Linked DNA regions of Homo sapiens: regions 1 and 2 are each linked to region 3. Evidence: fine-mapped expression QTL. A gene starts in region 3. Each other region holds a variant in brackets. All regions are shown on one strand. Distances are between the middles of the regions. Region 1 holds the start of LOC124904636 (a long non-coding RNA gene). Region 2 overlaps OLFM2 (olfactomedin 2). Region 3 holds the start of OLFM2 (olfactomedin 2).

Region 1 (7,977 bases), 42 kb before region 3:
CTTATGTGGGTGAGGAAACTGAGGCCTGGAGAGGGGAGGGGGTGTGCTTGGGTCATGGGTTAGGGAGTGAGCTGTGGCCATGTGTCTCTCCATGGTGTGTATGTGTGCAACTGTGTGTTTTTTGTATTTTGTTTTTTGTTTTTGAGATAGGCTCTTGCTCTGTTGCCCAGGCTGGAGTGCAGTGGCGCGATCACAGCACACACAGTGTCAATCTCCCAGGCTCAAGCAATCCTCCCACCTCAGCCTCCCAAGTAGCTGGGACTACAGGTGCATGCCACCATGCCTAGTAAATGTTTGTCTTCTTTTGTAGAGATAGGGTCTCACTATGTTGCCCAGGCTGGTCTCAAACTCCTGGGCTCAAGCAATCCTCCTGCCTCAGCCTCTCAAAGTATTGGGATTACAGACATAAGCCACCACACCCAGCCCAACTGTGTGTTTTGTGCAGATGCAGTGTGAGTGGCTGCATCAGCCCGAATGTGGACAGAGGAGGATGCATTCAGGCTCACTTTGCATCGGGGTGTCTGTGAGTGGAAGGGAGGCAGTGGGCCAGACCCAGGCAGGTGTGAACACGTGTCTGTGTGTTCGGCTGGGTATGAATGCGTGTGTGTGCGCCAATGCACTGGCGGATGGGAAATTGTGCATCCACAGTGAAGCTGTGTGTATGTGTGTGAAGGGGAGGCTCTGTGAGCTTTGGATGGGGCTGGAGCTGCAGTTGAAGCAATGTTGTGGGTGAGGGAAGAACCCCACCAGCCACAGGCCTGTTATTTATAGACGAATCCTGGTTCATAAATTCCAATTTTTTTTTTTTTATATCTGCCTCACTGCCAGGCCCCTATAAATATTCATGAGTTTCCTGCCTTGGAATATTTGAGTAGTCAGAAGGAGGAGCCGGGAGGAGAGGGGACAACGAAGGGTCCCCAGTGGCGCTGGGAGCTCACACGGGTCGGGAGGACAGGGGTCTCTCTGGTTTTGCCTTCTCTTCCCTCTGGGCTCCCCTCTTCCAAGCTGCAGCTGGCAAGACGGGGAAGGCGCTGGGCTGGTGGAGACATCTACCAGCACCTATTATTCTTCTTCCCCAGTGTCTGTGGAAAAATACCACCCACTCCGGGGGCAGAGAAGGTGTCTGCACTGTTTTCTCAGCTCCAGCTCTAGCTGCAGCTCAGAAACTCATTACCCCTGGGACCCCCAGCTCAACAGAGACAGGGAGATCCCCCTGATGTATCTGAAGCTAAGGGAAGACTCTGGGGGGAGGGGGCGGGCACTGTGGCCTCCTGCCCTGCCTCAAGGAAGGAAACAGGTCATGAGAATGGGTGCCCGTGAGAAGGAATAAAGTGCGTGCATGTGGACGTGTCTACAGGAGTGAGTAACTGTTGGAACATGTAAGAGACTGCAGTAGTCAACAGAACTGTTGACACATTTTCTAGTTCTTTTCTCTTAGGCACATGATGGGGCTGTAGGACTTCCCCAGTGTGGCCACGTGACTTCCTTTAGCCAATGCCTTTTAAACGGCAGTGACTTCCAGGTGAATACTTTAAGAGCCGGTGTGGACCAGGTGTGGTGGCTCACACCTGTAATCCCAGCACTTTGGGAGGCCAAGGCAGGAGAACTGCTTGAGGCCAGGAGTTTGAGAACAGCCTGGGCAACATAGCAAGACCCCTATTCTACAAAATATTTTAAAAATTTATCGGGCATGGAGGTGCACACTTATATTCCCAGCTACTCAGGAGGCTGAGGCAGGAGGATTGTTTAAGCCCAGGAGTTGGAGGCTGCAGTGAGCTGTGATCACACCACTGCACTCCAGCCTGGGCACAGAGCAAAACCCTGTCTCTGAAACAACGAAGAAAAAAAGAGGCAAGCCAGTGTGCAGTGCCACAGTCTTCCCTCAGCAACCGCAGAAGGGCATGTTGGGCTGGGTGCAGTGGCTCACACTTGTAATCCCAGCACTTTGGTAGGCTGAGGCACGCAGATCACCTGAGGTCAGGAGTTCAAGACCAGCCTGGTCAACATGGTGAAACCCAGTCTCTACTAAAAATACAAAAATTAGCCAGGCCTGGTGGTGGGTGCCTGTAATCCCAGCTACTTAGGAGGCTGAGGCAGGAGAATCACTTGAACCTGGAGGCAGAGGTTGCAGTGAGCCGAGATCGTGCCACTGCACTACAGCCTGGGCAACAGAGCGAGACTCCATCTCGGAAAAAAAAAAAAAAAAAGTGCATGCTGGGGCCAGGCACAGTGGCTCACATCTGTAATCCCAGCACTTTGGGAGGCCGAGGTAGGTGAATCACTTGAGGTCAGGAGTTCGAGACCAGCCTGGCCAACATGGTGAAATCCTGTCTCTACTAAAAATATAAAAATTAGCCAGGTGTGCTGGCACGTGCCTGTAGTCCCAGCTACTTGGGAGGCTGAGGCAGGAGAATTGCTTGAACCGGGAGGCAGAGGTGAGCTGAGATGGCACCACTGCACTCCAGCCTGGCAACAGAGCAAGACTCCATCTCAAAAAAAAAAAAAAAAGTGCATGTTGGTATGAAGCCTCCATCACTGGGGTCCCTGAGTGGCCAGACTAGGCAGAGACCCTGCCAACCCTCATGTATCATGAGCAAAAGCTCATTTGGTTGTACTAACCCTCTGAGACTTGGGGGCTGTTTTGTTATACAGCAAAACCTAGCCTATGCTGACTGGCACAGAGCCAGTGAGTGTGTGAGACTGAGGTGTGGCACGTCTGTGTCTACATGATCAAGAACACACATGAGCAGGTAGCTATATATAGGTTTATGTGTGTGAGCATCAGCAAGTGTATAAAACTATGCATATGAATGTATAAAACAGGATGGTGTCAGATGATAGATAAGTGAGAAAACTCCAGGGACACTGTTCTCCGAGAACACCATGACCCTGGAGTCGGGCACTATTGCAGATGTGAAACTGGCATAGTGAGGAGGGCTATGTCTGAGTGTGCCAGTTGGCTGTGTTTGTAAGACTGTGATGTGGTCTGTACGTGTGTGTGCCAGGGTTTGGGGTGTCAATGTGCATGTCTGTGCCACGTGTTGCTGTGTATCTGAGGCACGTGCATGGGTTGGTGTGACTGTGTGTGTGCATGTGTGTATCTGCTGCTGTGTGGATATGTGATACCCTGGGTGTGACAGCCTATATGGAGTGGGGGCATCACTCAAGTCTGTATCAGAGTACATACAGCCAACACCACAGGGAGGGACA[G/T]CCACCCTGGGCATCCCTAGTGCTGTTGGCTCATGGGCCTGACCTGGCTCAACCTTGGATCCTAGGATGACCTGGCATTGGGAAATAAAATTCTGGCTGTGTGCGGTGCCTCACGCCTGTAATCCCAGCACTTTGGGAGGCCAAGGTGGGTGGATCACTTGAGGCCAGGAGTTCGAGACCAGCCTGGCCAACATGGCAAAACCCTGTCTCTACTAAAAATACGAAAATTAGCTAGGCTTGGTGGCGGGTGCCTGTAGTTCCAGCTACTCAGGAGGCTGAGGTGGGAGAATCACTTGAGCCCAGGAGGCAGATGACGCCACTGCACTCCAGCCTGGGTGACAGAGCAAGACTCTGTGTCAAATCAAATCAAATAAAAATAAAATTCTCATCCCCTCATGAGTCCTGGGACATTCCAAGTCATCTGCAATGGCCATTCATCCCAGAGGCACTCGACAGTTTGGGTGACGCGGCTCAACAAGTAGGGAGAGCAAACCTGTTCTCCCACAACTTCTCTAAGATAAGCCCATTTTCTGGTTCTCTCCTCACAAGGTTCTGGTCTGATCTGTCTCAGGATGTGGGTTCAGCCCTGGTCCATCTCAGGATTCAAGTTAAACTCTGGTCTATCTCAGTACTTGGGTTTGGCCTTGTCTATCTCAAGTCCACAGCGTAGCCCTGATCTACCCAGGACTCGGATTTGGTCCTGGCCCTCTTCATCTCTTAGAACCAGGTTTCTCTTTGGTCTCTCCCAGTTAAGCCTTTGTCTGTCCAAGGCTTGGGCTTGACTCTAGTCTGTCATAGAGTCAAACCACAAGGCATCTTTTATTTTTTTTCTTTTTCTTTTTTTTTTTGAGACAGAGTCTCGCTCTGTTGCCCAGGCTGGAGTGCAATGGCACAATTTCAGCTCACTGCAGCCTCCACCTCCCAGGTTCAAGTGATTCTCCCGCCTCAGCCTCCCAAGTAGCTGGGATTACAGGCGCCTACCACCATGCCCAGCTAATTTTTGTATTTTTAGTAGAGACTGGGTTTCACCATGTTAGCCAGGGTGGTCTCGAACTCCCAACCTCAGGTGATCCACCCGCCTCCACCTCCCAAAGTGCTGGGATTACAGGCGTGAGCCACCGCACCCGGCCAATCATGGAGCATCTTAACACCTTGGGGATGTATCTGTGTTCTGTTCCAGGACTTGAGTGAACCCCCCGTCTTGGAACCTGAGCTGAGCCTGGTCTATCTCAGTACCTGGGTACACCCTGCCCTAGTAGAACGTTCACAATCAGGTGAGGATTTCATGGCAGAAATTTCCCCTTCCTGGGCACCTTCTCACGTGTGGAGCACTTCTCTTAAAGTGTTTGGGGCCTCTTGGGTGAACGTCTACTGCAAATGATTGCTGTGTCTCAGGATTAATGAGGGTAAGGGGATTTCATTTCTCCAACGCCATCATGTAAAATTCATTAAAGCAGAGTTCGCAGGTCTATTTCAAGGATTATTACCAGGGTTTCTTGATGAGCTATTACACACAGCATAAATCTTCAAGAGGTTTCAAGACGTTACAAGAACCATCCTGAGTCTCACCTCATAGATACTAGAGTTGAACATCCCTCTATCTGAGCTCTCCCCAGCCTCAGACACCAAACCTCAGGTCAGGAGTTCAGGAGAGAGCATTCAAGAGGGTTTTCTTGGTCGGGCATGGTGGCTCACTCCTGTAATCCCAGCAACTTTGGGAGGCCAAGGCGGATGGATCACTTGAGGCCAGGAGTTCGAGACCAGCCTGGCCAACATGGTGAAACCCCATATCTACTAAAAATACAAAAATTAGCCGGCCGTGGTGGCGCACGCCTGTAATCCCAGCTACTCAGGAGGCTGAGGCAGGAGAACCACTTGAACCCGGGAAGGGGAGGTTGCAGTGAGCAGAGATCATGGTAACATGTGCTAAACAGGAAGGGTCAAAACCTGCTGTCACCTGAGCCCAGGTAAGTCACGGCTGCAGTGAAACCGGGATGGTGTCACTGCACTCCAGCCTGGGCAACAGAGTGAGACTCTCTCTCAATAATAATAATAATAATAATAATAATAATAATAATAAATAAATAAAATAAAGCCAGGTGCAGTGGCTCACGCCTGTAATCCCAGCACTTTGGGAGGCTGAGGCGGGCAGATCACCTGAAGTCAGGAGTTCGAGACCACCCTGACCAACACGGAGAAACCCCGTCTCTACTAAAAATACAAAATTAGCCAGGTGTGGTGGTGCCTGCTTGTAATCCCAGCTACTCGGGAGGCTGAGCCACGAGAATGGCTTGAACCCAGGAGGCAGAGGTTGCAGTGAGCCGAGATTGCACCATTGCACTCCAGCCTGGGCAACAAGAGCAAAACTCCGTCTCAAAAGAATAAAAAATTAAAAAAATACATAAATAAAATAACTTCCCACTCCTCGGTTGAGAACCACAGCTCTAGACTTAGCCTTGCATTTTCTCTTTATCTTTCTCTAAGGAGTCTGACCCTTACCAAAGCGTCCATCAACACCTGCCTGTATATATGTCCTCAGAGCTCCAATGCATATATTCATCATCTGACTCCTTGACCGCTCCCCCTGCCCCAGATATCTCTAAGGCATCTCAAGCCCAACATGCTCAAACTGAAGTGCACAGCCTTCCCTCCCTAACCTAGTTCTTATCCAACATTCCTTATGTCACCATCTCCATCCTCCCCACCCCCGGGCCAGTGGGTCAGACACCCGGGCATTATCCTCACCCTCATTTTACTCCCTCACCAAATCCTACTGATGTTAACTCCTAGATAGCTTTAGAATTCATGCATCATTCTTCATCTCTATCACCATGCAATGGTCCAAGCCACTTTCACAATTCAGCAAGTCTAGGCTGTGTGCAGTGGCTTATGCCTGTTATCCCAGCACTTTGGGAGGCCGAGGTGGGAGGACTGCTTGATCCTAGGAGTTTGAGACCAGCCTGGGCAACATACTAGGACCCTAACTGTACCAAAAAAAAAATTTTTTTTTAATTAGCGGGGTGTGGTGGCACACGCCTGTAGTCCCAGCTACTCGGGAAGCTGAGGTGGGGGATCACTTGAGCCTGAGAAGTCAAGGCTTCAGTGAGCCGTGATCACACCACTACACTCCAGCCTGGGTGACAGAGTGAGACCCTGTCTCAAATAAATAAATAAATAAATAAATGTAAAATATGACAAAACATTTAAATAAAAATAAAGTCTATTCGGTCTACCTCAATCTACCTTTTTTCTTGCTAGTAACTCTACACATGGGAGCTTCTGGGAAACTTTATTTATTTTTATTATTTATTTATATTTTTAGACCGAGTCTCGCTCTGTCGTCCAGGCTGGAGTGCAGTGGTGCCATCTCAGCTCACTGCAACCTCCACCTCCAGGGTTCAAGTGATTCTCCTGCCCCAGCCTACTGAGTAGCTGGGATTACAGGCCCACGCCACCACACCTGGCTAATTTTTGTATTTTTAGTAGAGACAGGGTTTCACCATGTTGGCCAGGCTGGTCTCAAACTCCTGACCTCAAGTGATTCACCCGCCTTGGCCTCTGAAAGCTGGGAAACTTTACAACGCACGTGTGATCATATTATCCTCCCGGCCAAAACCATATTGGTGGATTCCTTTTATTCTTAGGATAGAGATAAAACTCCTTAATGTCGCCACAAGAGCCTGTGGCTCTGCACTTTACTTACTTCTCTGCTTTCATCTGGTCTCCTCGTTCCCAGGCCTTCTTTACTTTATTTTAATTTTTTTTTTTTTTTTTTTTTTTGAGACGGAGTCTTGCTCTGTTGCCCAGGCTGGATGGAGTGCAGTGGCGCGATCTTGGCTCACTGCAAGCTCCGCGTCCCGGGTTCATGCCATTCTCCTGCCTCAGCCTCCCGAGTAGCTGGGACTACAGGCGCCCGCCACCACGCCCGACTAATTTTTGTATTTTTAGTAGAGACAGGGTTTCACTGTGTTAGCCAGGATGGTCTCAATCTCCTCACCTTGTGATCCGCCCGCCTCAGCCTCCCAAAGTGCTGGGATTACAGGCGTGAGCCACAGCGCCCAGCCTATTTTAATTTTTTTTAGAGACAGAGTCTTGCTCTGTTACCCAGGCTGGAGTGCAGTGGCACAAGTGTAGCTTACTGCAGCCTGGAACTCCTGGCTCAAGCCATCCTCCCACCCCGGCCTCCGAAAGTGCTGGGATTATAGGTGTGAGCCACCACCTCACCTGGCCTTGCAAGGCCTTCTTTAGTCCATCATATTTTCCATCCTTCCTCTTACCCCAGGGCCTTTGCATAAGCAATTCCCTCTGCGCAGAGCATCCTTTCCTCTCTGCATCAGATCTCAGCTCTTGCTTCCTCTGACTTCCAAATTACATCAAATCTCCTTATTAGAAGCTACTAGAGCACCAAGAATCTTTCCCTCAAAGCTGTTAATCACAGCTGCCAATTATATTTATTTGCAACTACATAATCATCACCTACCTCCCTGTTTTGCAGAAAGCGCCACACATCCATGTCTGTTTGGTTGAATATAATTTCTCCCTTAAAAGCATATAAGAAGTCCTCAAAAACACTTGTTGAGGGTGCAGTGGCTCACACCTATAATCCTAGCAGTTTGAAAGGCTGAGACGGGTGGATCGCTTGAGCCCAGGAGTTCAAGACCAGCCCGGGCAACATAGCGAGACCCTGTCTCTACAAAAAATTAGAGGATGTGGGCCAGATGTGGTGGCTCACACCTGTAATCCCAGCACTTTGGGAGGCCAAGGTGG
Region 2 (7,977 bases), 72 kb before region 3:
CAGGGGACTATTTTCTCTTGACCATGATCAGAGGTAGAAGGAAACTTTTATAGGAGCCTCTTGAGGTGGAGGGTTAGACCCTCCCCAAGGGGCACAGAACTCCTTCTTAGTAGGTGAGTCTGGTGAACTGCAAAGCTGGGTGGGACATGCCTGGTGGACCAGAGCTCACACACAGGAGACTCAGATGCTGCCCCTCCAGTCTTCCTTCCTTCCCCCCACCCCAATCCCAGTAAGTGCTTGGCTTCTCTCCCAAAAAAGCATTGAACAGGCAGGGCGCAGTGGCTCACGCCTGTAATCCCCGCACTTTGGGAGGCCAAGACAGGCAAATCACCTGCAGTCAGGAGTTCAAGACCAGCATGACTAATATGGTGAAACCCCATCTCTGCTAAAAATAAAAAAATTAGCTGGGCGTGGTGGCACACGCCTGTAATCCCAGCTACTCGGGAGGCTGAGGCAGGAGAATTGCTTGAACCTGGGAGGTGGAGGTTGCGGTGAGCTGAGATCGCGCCACTGCACCTGCACTCCAGCCTGGGCGACAGAGTGAGACTGTCTCAAGGAGAAAAAAAAAAAAAATACATTGAACAGATATTGGATAAAGTATCCATCTGGGCATGGTGGCTCACACCTGTAATCCCAACACTTTGGGAGGCTGAGGCAGGAGGATCACTTGAGCCCAGGAGATTGAGACCAGCCTGGGCAACATAGGGAGACCCCGTCTCCACAAAAAATATAAAAATTAGGGCATGGTGGTGCATGTCTGTAGTCCCAGCTACTCAGAGGCTGAGGAGTGGGGATTGCTTGAACCTAGGAGTTTGAGGCTGCAGTGAGCTGATCATGTCACTGCATTCCAGCCTGGGTAACAGAGTGAGACCCTGTGTTAAAAGGAAAAAAAAAAAAAAAGGACCTGCCTGGAGAGGAGCTGGATTATCAGCCAGCTCTGAATAATTTGCATAGCTGGATATGGCCACTGGCTGACCTGGATGGGGCTGGAGGGCGGGGTGAGAACTGGGAGATTTTCCCAGCTGCCCCCAGGGTACCTGGAAGGTTCTCACCTTCTCCATCAGTTGCCGCAGCTCCCGACTCCTGCCATCTCGAGAGCAGGTACTCTGCGCTGGGATCACGGCCGTGCAGATGCATTTCCCGTCAGGGGCCTGGGCTGAGGTGTACAGCTGCCAGCCCTCTTCTGGGTTCTGGAAGAGAGTCTGCAAAGAGGTGGGGGTCAGAGACCGGAATCCCAGTGAGGGTCTCGCCTCGCCCTCACTGGGACAGGAAGGGGGCCCAAGGAAACCACAGATGCCCTTTGCTGGGCTCCGGGCATATGCCAGTGCCTGTTGTGTGTGATCTCAGGCCCTCCTTAAGGAGCCTCATTTCACGGATGGCAAGACTGAGGTGCGGAGGGCTTAAGGAACACGGCAAGGAATTGGAGGACTCAAATCTTCTCCAAGACCAGAATTCATTCTCTCACACAGATTTGCACGCACACAACACTGTCTCTGTGACTGCCATTAGAACAGAGATCCACTCAAATAACCCCCAAACCTGGACCTCCTCTCTGCTTCCCCAGCCCACAGTGACATATCGGCTCTGGAGCTATCTCAGGGCCACTTAATGTTTTTTTTTTTTTTTGGTTTGTTTTTTGTTGTTGTTTGTTTTTGAGACACAGTCTTGCCCTGTCACCCAGGCTGGAGAGCAGTGGCGCGATCTGGGCTCACTGCAACCTCCGCCTGTCTCCAACACCTGGCCTCCACTCCAGCCTGGGTAACAGAGTGAGACCCTGTCTCACAAAAAAAAAAGGATCTCACCTCAGGTGATCCACCCGTCTCAGCCTCCCAAAGTGCTGGCATTACAGGCGTGAGCCACCGTGCCCGGCCATCAGGGCCACCAAATGTTAAGTGCAACCCTGCTGTGCCCCCACCTCACCTGGAGCCACCCAGGCAAAGTGATGGCAGACAAAATGCTCAGATAATCCAGTGACCAATTATGGCTTTGTTTCCCAAGCCATACTCCTTCCAACACTGGTAATCTTACCAGGTGTGCTGGGAAAAGGATGCTCTGTGGTCAAATAAATGTGTGTCACTGGGTGAAACAAGTTTTGTTACTGCAGGACTTATCAGAGGCTTAGAAATGCAAATAAGTACCAGGGAACTCTAGACACAAATCATAAACTTCCAAACTGATTAGAAGACACCCCTGAGGCAGGTGGATCACCTGAGGTCAGGAGTTTTGAGAACAGCCTGGCCAACATGGCAAAGCCCCATCTCTACTAAAAATACAAAAATTAGCCAAGTATGGTGGCGGGCACCTGTAATCTCAGCTACATGGGAGGCTGAGGCAGGAGAATGGCTTGAACTTGGGAGGCGGAGGTTGCAGTGAGCTGAGACTGCGCCACTGCGCTCCAGCCTGGGCGACAGAGCAAGACTCCGTCTCAAAGAAAAAAAAAAAAAAAAAAAAAGAAGATATCCATGAGAGTCTCTTCTGTCCCAGGCATAGGGTCTGGGATAGGATCAAGGAAGAGAAGGAATGAAGAAAACATCTGGTGGTTGTCCATGGAGCTACTAGGAGAGACGGACATCAACCACTTAATGCCAGTGATACTTCTAGAACCACATGCTGCAGTGAGTGCTTTGAAGAAGTAGTGCAGGGAGTAACAGGGGGTCTTCCCTCAGGCTGAGGGTCTCTGAGGAGGTATCCAAGAGAATGGGCTCTTGAGATGAACTTGAGGGACGAGTGAGACAGAAGAAAAGGAGAAGGCAGGGGACATTTCTATCATTACAAATCCTGATCAATGTCTGGAGGGACCCAGGAATGGTGGCTCACGCCTGTAATCCCAGAATTTCAAGAGGCTGAAGGGGGCGGATCACTGAAGGTCAGGAGTTTAAGGCCACCCTGGGCAACATAACAAGACCTCATCTATACTAAAAATTAAAAAAAAAAAAAAATTAGCTGGATGTAGTGGCATGCACCTGTGGTCCCAGCTACTCACAAGGCTGAGGCAGGAGGATTGCTTGGGTACAGGAAGTTGAGGCTGCAATGAGCTATGGCTGTGCCACTGCACTCCAGCCTGGGTGACAGAGTGAGACCCCATCTCTTAAAAAAAACAGGCCAGACGCGGTGGCTCACACCTGTAATCCTAGCACTTTGGGAAGTGGAGGCAGGTGGATCACCTGAGGTCAGGAGTTCCAGACCAGCTTAGCCAACATGGTAAAACCCCGTCTCTACTAAAAATACAAAAATTAGCCGGGCATGGTGATGTGCGCCTATAATCCCAGCTACTTGGGAGCCTGAGGCAGGAGAATCGCTTGAACCTGGCGGGGTGGGGGCAGCGAGCCGAGGTTGCAGTGAGCCGAGATCACACCACTTTACTCCAGCCTGGGCAAAAGAGTGAAACTCTGTCTCAAAAAAAAAAAAAAGGATGTGGGGGGACGTGAGGGTTGTGGGGTGACTGGCTTGGGCTTGCACACGTAGGCGTCGTTTGTTCAAAACCTGAAGTCTTTGTTCAAGACCTGAAGGAAGTGAGGGA[G/A]GAGCCATTTGGATGTCTGGGGAAGGGGTTCCAGGCAGAGAGAACAGCAAGTAGAAAGGCTGAGGCAGGACCATGCCTGGTGTGTTTGTGAAACAAGGAGGAGGCCCATGTGGCTGGAGCAGATTGAGTAAGGGGTAAGTGGAGGCAGATGAGAGAAGGGAGGTGATGGGGCAAGGCCTTGTGGGAAGCAGTGAGGGCTCTGGGTTCTGCCCTGAGGAAGGTGGGAGCCATGGAGGGTTCTGTGCAGAGGCGAGACGTGACCTTACTTGGGTGTTCACAGTGACCTCTGGCTGCTCTAGGGAACGAGGGAGGGAGGCCAGGGCAGGGGTGACTGCACAGATCCAGACAGGTGATGATGGGTGGTGGCCATAGAGGCGGTAAATGGAAGATTCTGGTCCTATTCCAGGATGCATTCTGACAGGCATGGAAGAAATTCTGATTAAAAAAACCCCAGTGTTTTACAGAGAAACAAAGCACCACAATCATTGATCATTTGCACAGCCATTACTAGATCTCCCAGCAGAATCGGTGCCGTGAGCTGCAGCACAGATAAACCAAGCTGTGAATTATGAGCGATCCCGGGGACTCCAACTATTAGCCCACCTTTTTCTCTCCCACTCAATCGAGTCTTTTTTTTTTTAAGGCTTATTGGAATATGAGCAAATGATATAATTGTACAAATTATACAGATGAGCTTGACTCCCCCACTAATCTATAAGGAAAACAAACCATTCATAAACGCCAGCTGAAACTATTACAGTCAGTCATTCTTCGAGCCTTTGTACACCCTTCCTAAATGGGGGGAACCCCCTCTTTGTAAGTTGCACATCCTCAGCCCTGGCAGCGGAGCACAGTAACTCACTTTCTCCGCCTTCCTTGTACTCAGGTAGGAGCTGGGTGGAGCTAACATTCACTGCAGGTGTGCCCAGGATTGGCCACAGCCAAGAGCTTTCTCTGGTGGTCATATCCCACCCTGCCCTTGCATGGGGCCAGCAGAAAATACACCCAGCAATCCTCAGAGATGACCTACAGGCATTCGTGATTAATACCACCCCTCTTGCCTCTCCAGTGGGAAAGAACTCGAAGGTGTATGTTCATGAAATCTTCCAGGGCAACCCATTAGATTTACACCTCAGTTGTCCACAGCAGCAACCTGCTCATTACTTCTCTTTTATTTATTCGTTTATTTTATTATTTTTCATTTTTGAGACAGACTCTCGCTGTGTCTCCCAGGCTGGAGGGCAGTGGTGCGATCTTGGCTCACTGCAACCTCCACCTCCTGGGTTCAAGCGATTTTCATGCCTCAGCCTCCCGAGTAGCTAGGATTACAATCACCCACCTCCATGCCTGGCTAATTTTTGTATTTTTAGTAGAGATAGGGTTTCACTATGTTGGTCAGGCTGGTCTCGAACTCCTGGCCTCAAGTGATCCGTCCACCTTGGCCTCCCGAAGTGCTGGGATTGCAGGCGAGAGCCATTGCGCCTGGCACATTTATTTATTTTTTTAAGATGGGGTCTTGCTGTCGCTCAGGTCTGGGTCTTGCTGTCACCCACCACTGGAGTGCAGTGGTGCAATCCTAGCTTACTGCAGCCTCGAACTCCTGGGTTTAAGCCATCCCCTCCCACATCTGCCTCCTGAGTAGCTGGGCCTACAGGCAGGTACCAACACACCCAGCTTTTTTTTTTTTTTTTTTTTCCTTTTGTAGAGATAGTCTTGCTTTGCTGCCCAGGCTGGTCTTGAACTCCTGGGCTCAAGCGATCCACCTGCCTCGGCCTCTCAAAGTGCTGGTATTACAGGTGTGAGCCACTGCGCCTGGCGTACTCATTAAGTCTCCCGGCACGGGTTTCCTTCACCTCCTCTCTCACTTCACTGCTCCCCCACTGGTTCTTCCTGGGGTATCTTAGGTGGATACCTGCACTTAAATCCTCCCTGAAAGAGCCTGACCTAAGACAACAAGGATGGCCCAGTACAAGAGGAATACCCCAAGAAAGCCTGCCCCTTTGGTTCTGGGAGGATCCAGAACTACTCTCCCACCTCCCTTCTTCTTCTTCTCCTCTTTTTTTTTTTTTGGAGATGGAGTCTCACTTGGTCACCCAGGCTGGTGTGCAGTGGTACTATCAGGGCTTTTGGCAGCCTCAACCTCCTGGGCTTAAATAGTGATTCCTCCCACTTCAGCCTCCCGAGTAGCTGAGACTAAAGGCCTTTAGTCTCACCATCGCACCTACTAATTTTTAAATTTTTTTGTAGAGATGGGAGTCTTGCTATATTGTCCAGTATGGTCTCAAACTCCTGGGCTCAAGCGATCCTCCTGCCTCAGCCTCCCAAAGCACTGGGATTACAAGGCATGAGTCACTGTTACCTCTCTGTTTTTTCTTTTTTTTTTTTTTTTTTTTTTTTGAGAGGGAGTCTTGCTCTGTCGCCCAGGCTGGAGTGCAATGGCGGGATCTCGGCTCACTGCAGCCTCTGCCTCCCAGGTTCAAGCAATTCTCCTGCCTCAGCCTCCCAAGTAGCTGGGATTACAGGCATGCACCACCACGCCTGGCTAATTTTTGTATTTTTAGTAGAGACAGGGTTTCGCCATGTTGGCCAGGCTGGTCTTGAACTCCTGACCTCAAATGATCCACCCGCCTTGGCCTCCCAAAATGCTGGGATTACAGGCATGAGCCACCGTGCCCGGCCCTCCCTTCTTGATAAATCTCATTCTTAAAAAAAAAAAAAAAAAACAAAGAAAAACATCAAACAGGAGCCCAAGCATCCCTGCCCCTCCTCCCCTGGCTCTAGTCCCCAAGCAATTTGGATAGAAACCCCCAAGGAATATCTTTTGTGCAGAGACAAAGCCGCCGGTTCAACGTAATTAACATCTTCCTACATTGCCTAGCGTGTCCGTTGAAGCAAATAAGCCATTTTCTCTCGACAGAGGAAATATTGAATTGTAAAAGAGAAGCAAGATTTAAGTGGTGCAGAGAGAAGGCCTCCATGGTTTTCCTAAAATAATTGTCTGCGTTGGACGCATCTCACCGGAGTGTTCTCTGCAGCAGTGTAATTAAATGCCTGGGTTTTGGCTGCCAGATCGCAGCAGGCAGAGGTCCTGAGTTTTGCCCATTGGGTTTAAGTTCAGATATGCAGTTAATGCATGTCCCTAGGAACCGCTGGAATGTTCTGGAATGTACCATGTGCTAGCTCTCCCAGACTGGGTCTAGCTTGGAAACAAAGTCAAGAGTTCTTGGCAGTCAGAAGACTAGAGAGGAACAGAGAGTGTCCTACTCTAGGGGAAATGCTTACAACAGCAGGTGCAAGAACACAGGCGTTCTCCAGCATAGAAGTCTGTGGTCTAGCAGCCTGTCTCACCTCGGATGTGGCAGATGTACTAAAGAAGCCAACCCACTTTTTTTTTTTTTTTTTTTTGAGACAGGGTCTTGCTCTGTTGCCTAGGCTGGAGTGCAGTGGCATGATCTAGGCTCACTGCAGCCTCAACTTCCCTGACTCAAGCAATCCTCCCACCTCAGCCTCCCGAGCAGCTGGGACTACAGGCATGCACCATCACGACTGGCTATTTTTTTTGGTAGAGACGGGGATCTCACTACATTTCCTAGGCCGATCTTGAACTCCTGGGCTAAAGTGATCCACCCGCCTTGGCCTCCCAAAGTGCTGGAATTATAGGCGTGAGCTATCACGACGGCCCTGCCAACCCACTCTCTCTTTGCTGAGCTCTTGGTTCAGGGTTTAATATTCCTGCTAATGGGCTTTAAGGGAGTGAAGCTATGCACTCAAGTATCTGTTCCTCAAATGTCTTTTCTGGCTGAAATCTTACAAACACTTTTGCTGAGGCTGCCCTAATTAAACACCAGCCTCTAAAACAGGTCCAGGATTAACTGAGTAGGACACAGGCAGGGAAAGCTGTTCTTGCTGTCGGGCCAGGGATCATCATCTCCTACTACTCCACCACCTATATCTTGGTTCAAAAACAATTCCTGGTGGCCAGGCATGGTGGCTCACGCCTGTAATCCCAGCACTTTGGGAGGTGAAGGTGGGCGGATCACCTGAGGTCAGGAGTTCCAGACCAGTCTGGCCAACATGGTGAAACCCCATCTCTACTAAAAATACAAAAATTAGCCAGACGTGGTGGCAGGCACCTGTAAGCCCAGCTACTCAGGAGGCTGAGGCAGAAGAATTGCTTGAACCCAGGAGGCAGAGGTTGCAGTGAGCCGAGATCGTGCCATTGCACTCCAGCCTGGGCAATAGAGCGAGACCCCGTCTCAAAAAAACAACAATAACAACAACAAAAAAAAACAATTCCTGGTGTTTCCCTGGGGACGGAGGCATTGCTACAGGGTCCTGGGGACAGGAGAAGCATTGGCTATCAGGAAGTAGCCAACAGGAAGAGAGCAAGCGCCTGCCTCTTAATAAAATGAAGCTATTATTGTGTTTGAGGCTGGATAATTTAATCAGGAAGCCAA
Region 3 (7,977 bases):
GGAGTTCGAGACCAGCCTGGCCAAAATGGTGAAACCCCATCTCTACTAAAAATACAAAAATTAGCTGGGTGTGGTGGCACGCCCCTGTAGTCCCAGCTACTCGGGAGGCTGAGGCACTAGAATCTCTTGAGCCCGGGAGGCAGAGGTTGCAGTGAGCTGAGATCATCACAATACTGTACTGTACTCCAGCATGGGTGACAGAACAAGACTCCATCTCAAAAATAAAAAAAAAAAAAGAAATAAAAAGAAAAAGTTATTGTAGAGATGGGATCTTGCTGTATTGCCCAGGCTGGTCTCAAATTCCTGGCCTCAAGAGACCCTCTGGCTTTGGTCTCCCAAAATGCTGGGATCATAGGTATCAGCCATCACACCTGGCCTGAAGAATGGATTTTCTTGGTGCCTTCCATCCAGGAGCGAGTGTTCCCCTGACACTCTCTTGATAAAAGAATCCTGTGGTTTGAGAAAGAAAGACACTCTGTGTGTGTGAGGGGGTCCATCCATCCATCCATTCATCCATTCAGCAGATATTTCTTGAGCACCTACTGTGTGTCAGGCTCTGCTCTAGACACTGGAGAAACAACAAAGCTAGCTGAACCCTGATAAACTGCCGCTCTAGTGGGGAAACAGAGAATGAATGAATAGAAGAATCATAGAAATGTGGAAACGAGGGCTATAAAGAAAAATATGGCCGGGCGTGGTGGCTCATGCCTATAATCCCAGCACTTTGGGCGGCAGATCACCTGAGGTCAGGAGTTCAAGACCAGCCTGGCCAACATGGTGAAACCCTGTCTCTACTAAAAATACAACAAAAACTAGCTGGGCATCAGGTGGCACGTGCCTGTAGTCCCAGCTACTCGGGAGGCTGAGGCACGAGAATCACTTGAACCGGTGAGGCAAAGCTTGCAGTGAGCCGAGATTGCGCCACTGCACTCCAGCCCAGGCAACAGAGTGAGACTCAGTCTCAAAAAAAAAAAAAAAAAGAAAGAAAGAGAGAGAAAGAAAAAGAACACGGAGTAAGCACTCAGAGAGTGGCAGCAGGGGGCTATTTCACTTAGCTGTTCAGGGTGAGCCTCTTGGAGGAGGTGACATTTAAGCAGAAATCAGAGATAAATAGCTACCAGGGGGAACAGTGTCACAGGCAGAGGGAACAGCAAGTGTGAAGTCCCTGAGGCACGTGATCTAAACTGAATTATTCCTTCTCCCCATCCTCTGAAAGCCCCAGGAAAGAGTTGGTCCCAAACCCAGATAGTGCCAACGATGTAGCTAGATCTTAGGGAGGCCTTCGCAGGGATCAGGAAGGCATCTTTTCCACAAGGAAAATAGTGGGGCTCAGAACTGTCAAGCTCTCTGGTAGTCACTCCCAGGCCAGAACCCAGAACATCTTGGATAGATCCTGGATGAATGGACAATGCCTCTGACAGGCCCTGCTTTCCTGTTCTCCTGCTCTCTGGGTCAAATCCAAACTTCTGCCCACAGCTTACAAGTTCCTAAGTGGTCTGGCTTCCCCGGCCTCATCTCCCCGCGACCTCTCCAGCCACACCAGCGTCCACACTGCTTCTGAAACTCACCAAGCTTGTTCTTACCCCAGGGCCTTTGCACCTTCTGTTCCTCCCACCTTCAATGCTCTTCCCCCAGACACCCACAAGGCTCCCTCTCTCACCTCCTTCAGATGTCACCTGAAACACTACTTCCTTAGAGACACCTTCCCTGACCACACTGGCTCAAATAGCCCCCACCTTGTAATCTTTTTCTGTTTTTTTGCTTTGAGACAGTCTTGTTCTGTTGCCTAGGCTGGAGTGCAGTGGCATGACCTTGGCTCACTGGAACCTCTGCCTCCCAGGTTCAAGCAATTCGCCTGCCTCAGCCTCCTGAATAGCTGGGACTACAGGTGTGCAACACCACACCTGGCTAATTTTTTGCATTTTTAGTAGAGACGGGGTTTCACCATGTTGGCCGGGCTGGTCTCAAACTCCTGACCTCAAGTGATCCACTCACCCTGGCCTCCCAAAGTGCTGGGATTACAGGCGTGAGCCTCCATGCCCGACTGCTATCACTCTAATCTTTTTTTTTTTTTTTTTTTTTTGAGACAGAGTTTCACTCTTGTTGTCCAGGCTGGAGTGCAATGGCGATCGCAGCTCACCGCAACCTCTGCCTCCCAGGTTCAAGCAATTCTCCTGCCTCAGCCTCCCTAGTAGCTGGGATTACAGGCGCCTGCCACCACACCCAGCTAATTTTTTGTATTTTTAGTAGAGACAGGGTTTCACTATGTTGGCCAGGCTGGTCTCGAACTCCTGACCTCAGGCGATCCACTTGCCTCAACTTCCCAAAATGCTGGGATTACAGGCGTGAGCCACAGCACCCGGCTCCAGTCTAATCTTCTATACTTTATCTGTTATTCTTCATGCTACTTGCATTGTATTATATGTATATTTAGTTGCCGACACCGTATTACATGGTTATTCGGCTCTTTTCTGTCTCCTCTGCTAGGTCAACTCCAGGAGAGCAGGGATTTGATGACTCAGTTGGTGGCTGTATCCCCAGTGCATAATCATATCTGTTCATTGAATGGATTAACCAATGATTTCTAGGAAGGACCCCTGGGCCCATCAGGGACAGGGAAGAAGTCTTTGGAAAGTGATGGAGGGAGCGAAGAGTGGGTAGAGCATCCTCTCTGCAGACCCCTCCCTTCCCTGGGGTGCCAGGCTTGGTGGGCCAACGCCAAGGGGGTGTATGGGGCGCCGAGACTGTTTCACAACCATGTAGTTCCCGCGGTGGCCGCCTGGAGGCACTGCAGCCCGCGGCAGGATTCCACCAGCCCCGCCCTAACGGATTACCTCATTTGGCCACGCCCCCGTTGTCCTTTAGCCCCGCCTCCACTGACCTCGTTAGTCCCGCCCCCAAAGCAACTCCCTCCCAGCCCTGGGGGCTGTAGGAGTCACCCTCCAATTGCAATTCTGGCAGCAAACTCTGGCATCCTAGCCAATCTTGGTGAGAAGCCAGAAAATCTAGTGCCCCCCTAGCAGGGAGTGGAGGAGAAGCCACAGGGGGTGGTTCTCTGTCTCCTCTGCTAGGTCAAGGATAATTCAACTTGATTCCTGGCTCATTTTTTTTCCACTGGTTTCTCAAGTGTGTGCCTCTTTTGGTCTCTCGTCTCCCAGGTGTGTCTCTTGGCTTCTCTCAGGCTCACACATCCATTGAGTACCTATTGTGTGTGTCCTCATGCCTGGGGCTGGGCACACTCCCTATCCCACCCAGCGCGTGGGTGCTGAGATGCGTGGGGAAATGGAGGAGCGAGGGAGGGGACCCCACAATCTCTCCTCGTGGCCTGGAAATCCTTCTATCTGGAGTCTAACCTCCATTCCTCCCAACACCCCCCTCGGGGTGAGCACAAGGGTCTGATTCTTTTCTTGATAAGGGGAAGGTGCCCAAATTGTTTCTCCCCTGCCTATCTACCTAAAAGCCCACCTAGCAATGTCTTCACGGACGCTGTCCACACCCATGGAGCGGATTATTTAACAAGAGGGTAATCGTGTGGGCTCAGGAGCCGGACTGCCTCGGTTCAGTCCCACCTCTGTCACTCTCGAGCTTGAGCAAGTGATTTAACTTTTCTGCGCCTCAGTTTCCCCATCCATAAAATGAGGTAACAATACCATGCTCTAGTAGGGAGGAGGCAGAGGGGGTTAAATGCCTTAGTCTGTGCTGTGTGATTGAAACAGCACCTCTCAAATTAGCACGTAATGAATGATCACTGTTATCATAATGACTATTTTATTATTTTTGATCCCAGCTTCCCTGTGAACTCCTACAGATCTGAGAACTTGGGGGTGCTCTCACTCCCAAGATGGAGGAGGAGAGGGGCTTTCCAATAGCAAAAGAGAGCGTGGACGCCCCACATTTTGCAAGCCTCCCTGAGCCTGCCCAAGAGAAAGGTGCCATGGGGAGGGAGACCCGCTTCTGTAAGGGTATGAATGGCGTGTGCGGTTGTGAGCAAGGCACCAAGATACACACACACACGTGCATGGATGGACACGTTTGCACACACAGCGCTTGCACACACACACACCCTTTTAGAGTGATTTACCCAAAGGTACAGAATAGCACACGCTCACTCCAAGGCTCTCACACGGCCACACACCTGGCCACACACGTATTGTACAACACCCAGTCATCTGGAGCCAGTAATGAGGACACGGTCACACACAGACTCTGTCTCACGTACTGATCACACCCCAACTCGGGCACTAGTTGGACAAGCCCCCCAACCGCCACACACACAAACTCCCCCCGGTCACACCCAACCACGACACAAAGACACACACGTTTACCCTGCACCCCCACAGCATTTCACACGCGTCCCCGTCAGTCACTCTCACGTGAGTCCCGTCCCCTGCCCCACACTGGGGGCTGCAGGCGAGGAGTGGAGGGCTTCAGAAACTGGGCATCTCGGCCCCGAAGAGGAAGTCAAGGGTAAGCAACCGCCCCCCTCCAATGCCCCCTGAAGTTTCCCTCCCAACCCCATTCAGCTCCAGCGAGATGGCGGGGTGGGGGCTCGGGGCCATGGAGGGGTTGAGAACCCCAAAGACGCCACCCCCCAAACCAGCCCAGCTTGAGGCTGGATTTGAAGCCCCCCTCGTCCTCTCCCAAGCCAGAGAGTGCACGTCCCGGCCCCTCCCCCGCTGCGACCCCCGCCCCTCGCCGCCCTGCAGCTGGGGGGGCTTGTGGAGCCTCCCAACCCCGTTTCTCCGGGAACCCTCCGCGCCCCCCTCCTCTCCCGGAGCCACCCGCGCCCGCACCTGCCCGCCGGGCCCCTACCTGTCCGGCCAGGCCTGAGCACAGCAGCAGCAGCAGCGGCGGCGGGACCGTGAGCGGCCACATGACGCGCCCCTAGCCCGGCGTCCCGACCCCCGCCCGCCCTAGCGGCGCCTCGGCGCGGGGACCGCCACCAGGCGCGACCCCGCCCGCCCGGCCGGGGCGACCCTGCGCCGCCGCCTCCCCCGCCTCGCCGGCGGCCGGGATTCCGCCCCACCCCCGCCCCCTCGCTCGCTCCGAGTCTTTGTTGCGGGCTCCGCCCCCCGCCCCGCCCCCAGCTCCTCTTCGGGAGCAGCTCGAGCAGGGTCGGGTGGGGGGGTGGGGGCGGGGAAGTGGGGGAGCCAGCGCCGGCGAGGGGACCTGAGGACAGGACTTGGCAGCGCCCCCCAACCCCCAGGCCATTCCGGGAGCGGGTCGCGGAGGTGGGGGAGGGGTGCCCGTCACGTGTTTGTAAATTTCACCCTCCGGGGGCATTTCCCACGTTGCAGGTGGGACGGGGACGAATGGTTGGGGGAGAGGAATAGGAGGAAGGCCTGGTAGCAGAGAGGGGAAATGATGAACGCCCCCTCCCTAAAAACTCAAGAGTCAACAGGGAAACTGAGGCAGAATCTGAAATTGGAAGTTGGAGGAGGGGTCAATGCCAGGACAAGAGGGGTGAGGCATAGATGGAGACGGGGAATAAGAGGAAAAAATTGAGGTTGGGGGGACAGGAGACCGAGAATCAGGCAAGAGGCCAATGGAAATGGCCACGTGGGTGGGCTTGGCCTCAAAAAGGGGCGTCTCGTTTTCACTCTCCCCGGGCGCCCCATTTCCCCACCAGTCCTCCCGCTGGAAGCCTCCCCGCCTCCGCCACACCTGGAAGAGTTTCTCTTCGCTCCCTGTTTCAATAGCCCAAGATGAAAGACCACATCCCCCGAGAGAATCAAAATATTAACACCGCCTCCACGCGAAGCCATTTGCATATGAAGGGCGTCCTTGTCTAGCCTCACTTTCGGGAGGCTTTCCAGCCTTTCTCTGCCTCTCACTCCTCCAAAAGTCTCCCTAGGCCGGGCGCGGTGGCTCACGCCTGTAATTCCAGCAATTTGGGAGGCTGAGGAGGGTGGATCATCTGAGGTCAGGAGTTCAAGACCAGCCTGGCCAACATGGCAAAACCCCACCTCTACTAAAACATACAAAAATTAGCCGGGCGTGGTGGTGCATGCCTGGAATCCCAGCTACTCGGGAGGCTGAGACAGGAGAATCGCTTGAACCCGGGAGGCAGAGGTTGCAGTGAGCAGAGATCGTGCCATTGCACTCCAGCCTGGGCAACAGGAGCAAACCTTGTCTCAAAAAAAAAAAAAAAAAAAAAGTGTCCCTAGTCGTCTTTCCTCCCCACAGCCCCTCTAGGGATTCGGATATATGTAGGCAGAGGTGGAGGAGGGGGGCGGGCAAATAAGTCAGATTGGAAAGAAATCGGGCATAAAATATGCGAGGCCAGGAAGCCTGGCATTTTTGTGACCCTGATACTGTTGGGCTAGGAGGGGTCTCCCCAGACGCTGGTGGGGCCTCGACCCCAGCTGGTGTCCAGGCTCTTAACACCATCGCAAGAATGAATTCAAGGAGGAATCAGAAAATCATGAAAAGTTCGGAGATTTTTTTGTTAAGGGAAAAGTCCACACTTGAGAAAAGGGAGTGGGCGTACTTAAGAGAGAGAGATGGGCAAGGTGGTTTGGGACTGCTACCTTTATGTGTCTCTTTTTTTTTTTTTTTTTTTTTTTTTTTGAGACAAAGTCTCGCTCTGTCACCCAGGCTGGAGTGCAGTGGTGTGATCTCGGCTCACTGCAACCTCTGCCTCCCAGGTTCAAGCAATTCTCCTGCCTCAGCCTCCTGAGTAGCTGGGATTACAGGTGTGCGCCATCACAGCCGGCTAATTTTTTGTGTTTTTAGTAGAGACAGGGTTTCACCATATTGGCCAGCCTGGTCTCAAACTCCTGACCTCGTGATCCACCCGCCTTGGCCTCCCAAAGTGCTGAGATTACAGGCGTGAGCCACCACAACAGGCCACTGTGTATCTCTTTAACCAAGGGATGGAATATTCATGAAAACTGGAAAAAGGTGGACTGTGGTGCCACCCACTTTTACACCAAATTTGGGTGTCCCTGGAATTGTCAAGGGCGCTGGTGGGTGGGTAATTTTAGTATTTTAATGAGTACATAATGAGATCCTAGGTGAAACCTAGGTAGAATGTAACGCCATGTTGGGTCCAGTAGGTCTTAGCCAGCTTGGTCCACACCCTGGTTTTCAGGATCTTATCAGCCCATAGCCTCTAGTCATGTGAAACGGCTGCCTGTGACCACCCTGGATCATTCCTGTCTCAACCCTACTGGGGATAAAACATGTCGATGATGGTTTTGTCAGGTCAATGAGAAAGAGCTTGGTGACCCACAGATCTGGGTTCAACCCTGGTGCTGCCACTTCTTGGCCATGTGACCTTAGGGAAAAAGCTTTCCCCCTCTTAGAAGACCTGTTTTTTGCAGTTATTGGGAGACATCTGTGACTCTAAGCAAAGAGAGCACCTAGCTAGCACTCACTCCCCAGCACGCCTTGCAATAACCAACCATGCACTGGGTTGAGGACACTCATCATGGGATGTGGACACAAAATAGAGTCTGAGCCTGCGAAGACATCCTGTTTATTCTTCTATCTCTTTTTTTTTTTTTTTTTTTTGAGATGGAGTCTCACACTGTCACACCCAGGCTGGAGTGCAGTGGCTTGATCTCGGCTTACAACCTCTGCCTTCCGGGTTCAAGGAATTCTCCCGCCTCGGCCTTCCAAGTAGCTGGGATTGCAGGTGCCTGCCACCAGGCCTGTCTAATTTTTCATATTTTTAGTAGAGATGGGGTTTCACCATATTGGCCAGGCTGGTCATGAACTCTTGACCTCAGGTGATCCACCTGCCTCAGCCTCCCAAAGTGCTGGGATTACAGGCATGAGCCACCGCACCCATCCTATTCTTCTATCTCCTTTTCCCAAATGGGAGACAGTCCTTTGTGGGCCCTTCAGGCCAAGCCTGCAGTTGGCATTGCATAAAAGGAGGACATTGGTTGGTAGGACCCACAAGCTCTTGACCAAGAGTGGGTCTCACGGTCAAGAGTCAGCACTCTTGACTCATGAATGCTGCATTTCAGG

Evidence for each region. PIP is the estimated chance that this variant, and not a neighbour inherited with it, causes the effect.
Region 1: its variant is the best candidate, but not a certain one, in a credible set for the expression of OLFM2 in unexposed skin (GTEx, PIP 0.51).
Region 2: its variant is the best candidate, but not a certain one, in a credible set for the expression of OLFM2 in whole blood (TOPMed, PIP 0.71).

The regions. Positions count from the first base shown.
Region 1 is chr19:9,889,125-9,897,101 of GRCh38, forward strand. The region is part of intron 1 of OLFM2 (olfactomedin 2); the gene reads right to left. It overlaps LOC124904636 (a long non-coding RNA gene), which reads left to right and starts at 4,366. Exons shown (of 2, transcript XR_007067135.1): 1 at 4,366-4,484. The variant G/T (reference allele first, on the strand shown) is at 3,211.
Region 2 is chr19:9,859,593-9,867,569 of GRCh38, forward strand. It overlaps OLFM2 (olfactomedin 2), which reads right to left. Exons shown (of 6, transcript NM_058164.4): 2 at 1,053-1,202. Among named protein-coding and RNA genes, the nearest start is that of PIN1, 28 kb to the left of the region's middle. The variant G/A (reference allele first, on the strand shown) is at 3,521.
Region 3 is chr19:9,931,492-9,939,468 of GRCh38, forward strand. OLFM2 (olfactomedin 2) reads right to left here and starts at 5,024. Exons shown (of 6, transcript NM_058164.4): 1 at 4,813-5,024. The coding sequence starts at 4,875. RefSeq lists enhancers at 4,280-4,874, 5,541-6,043.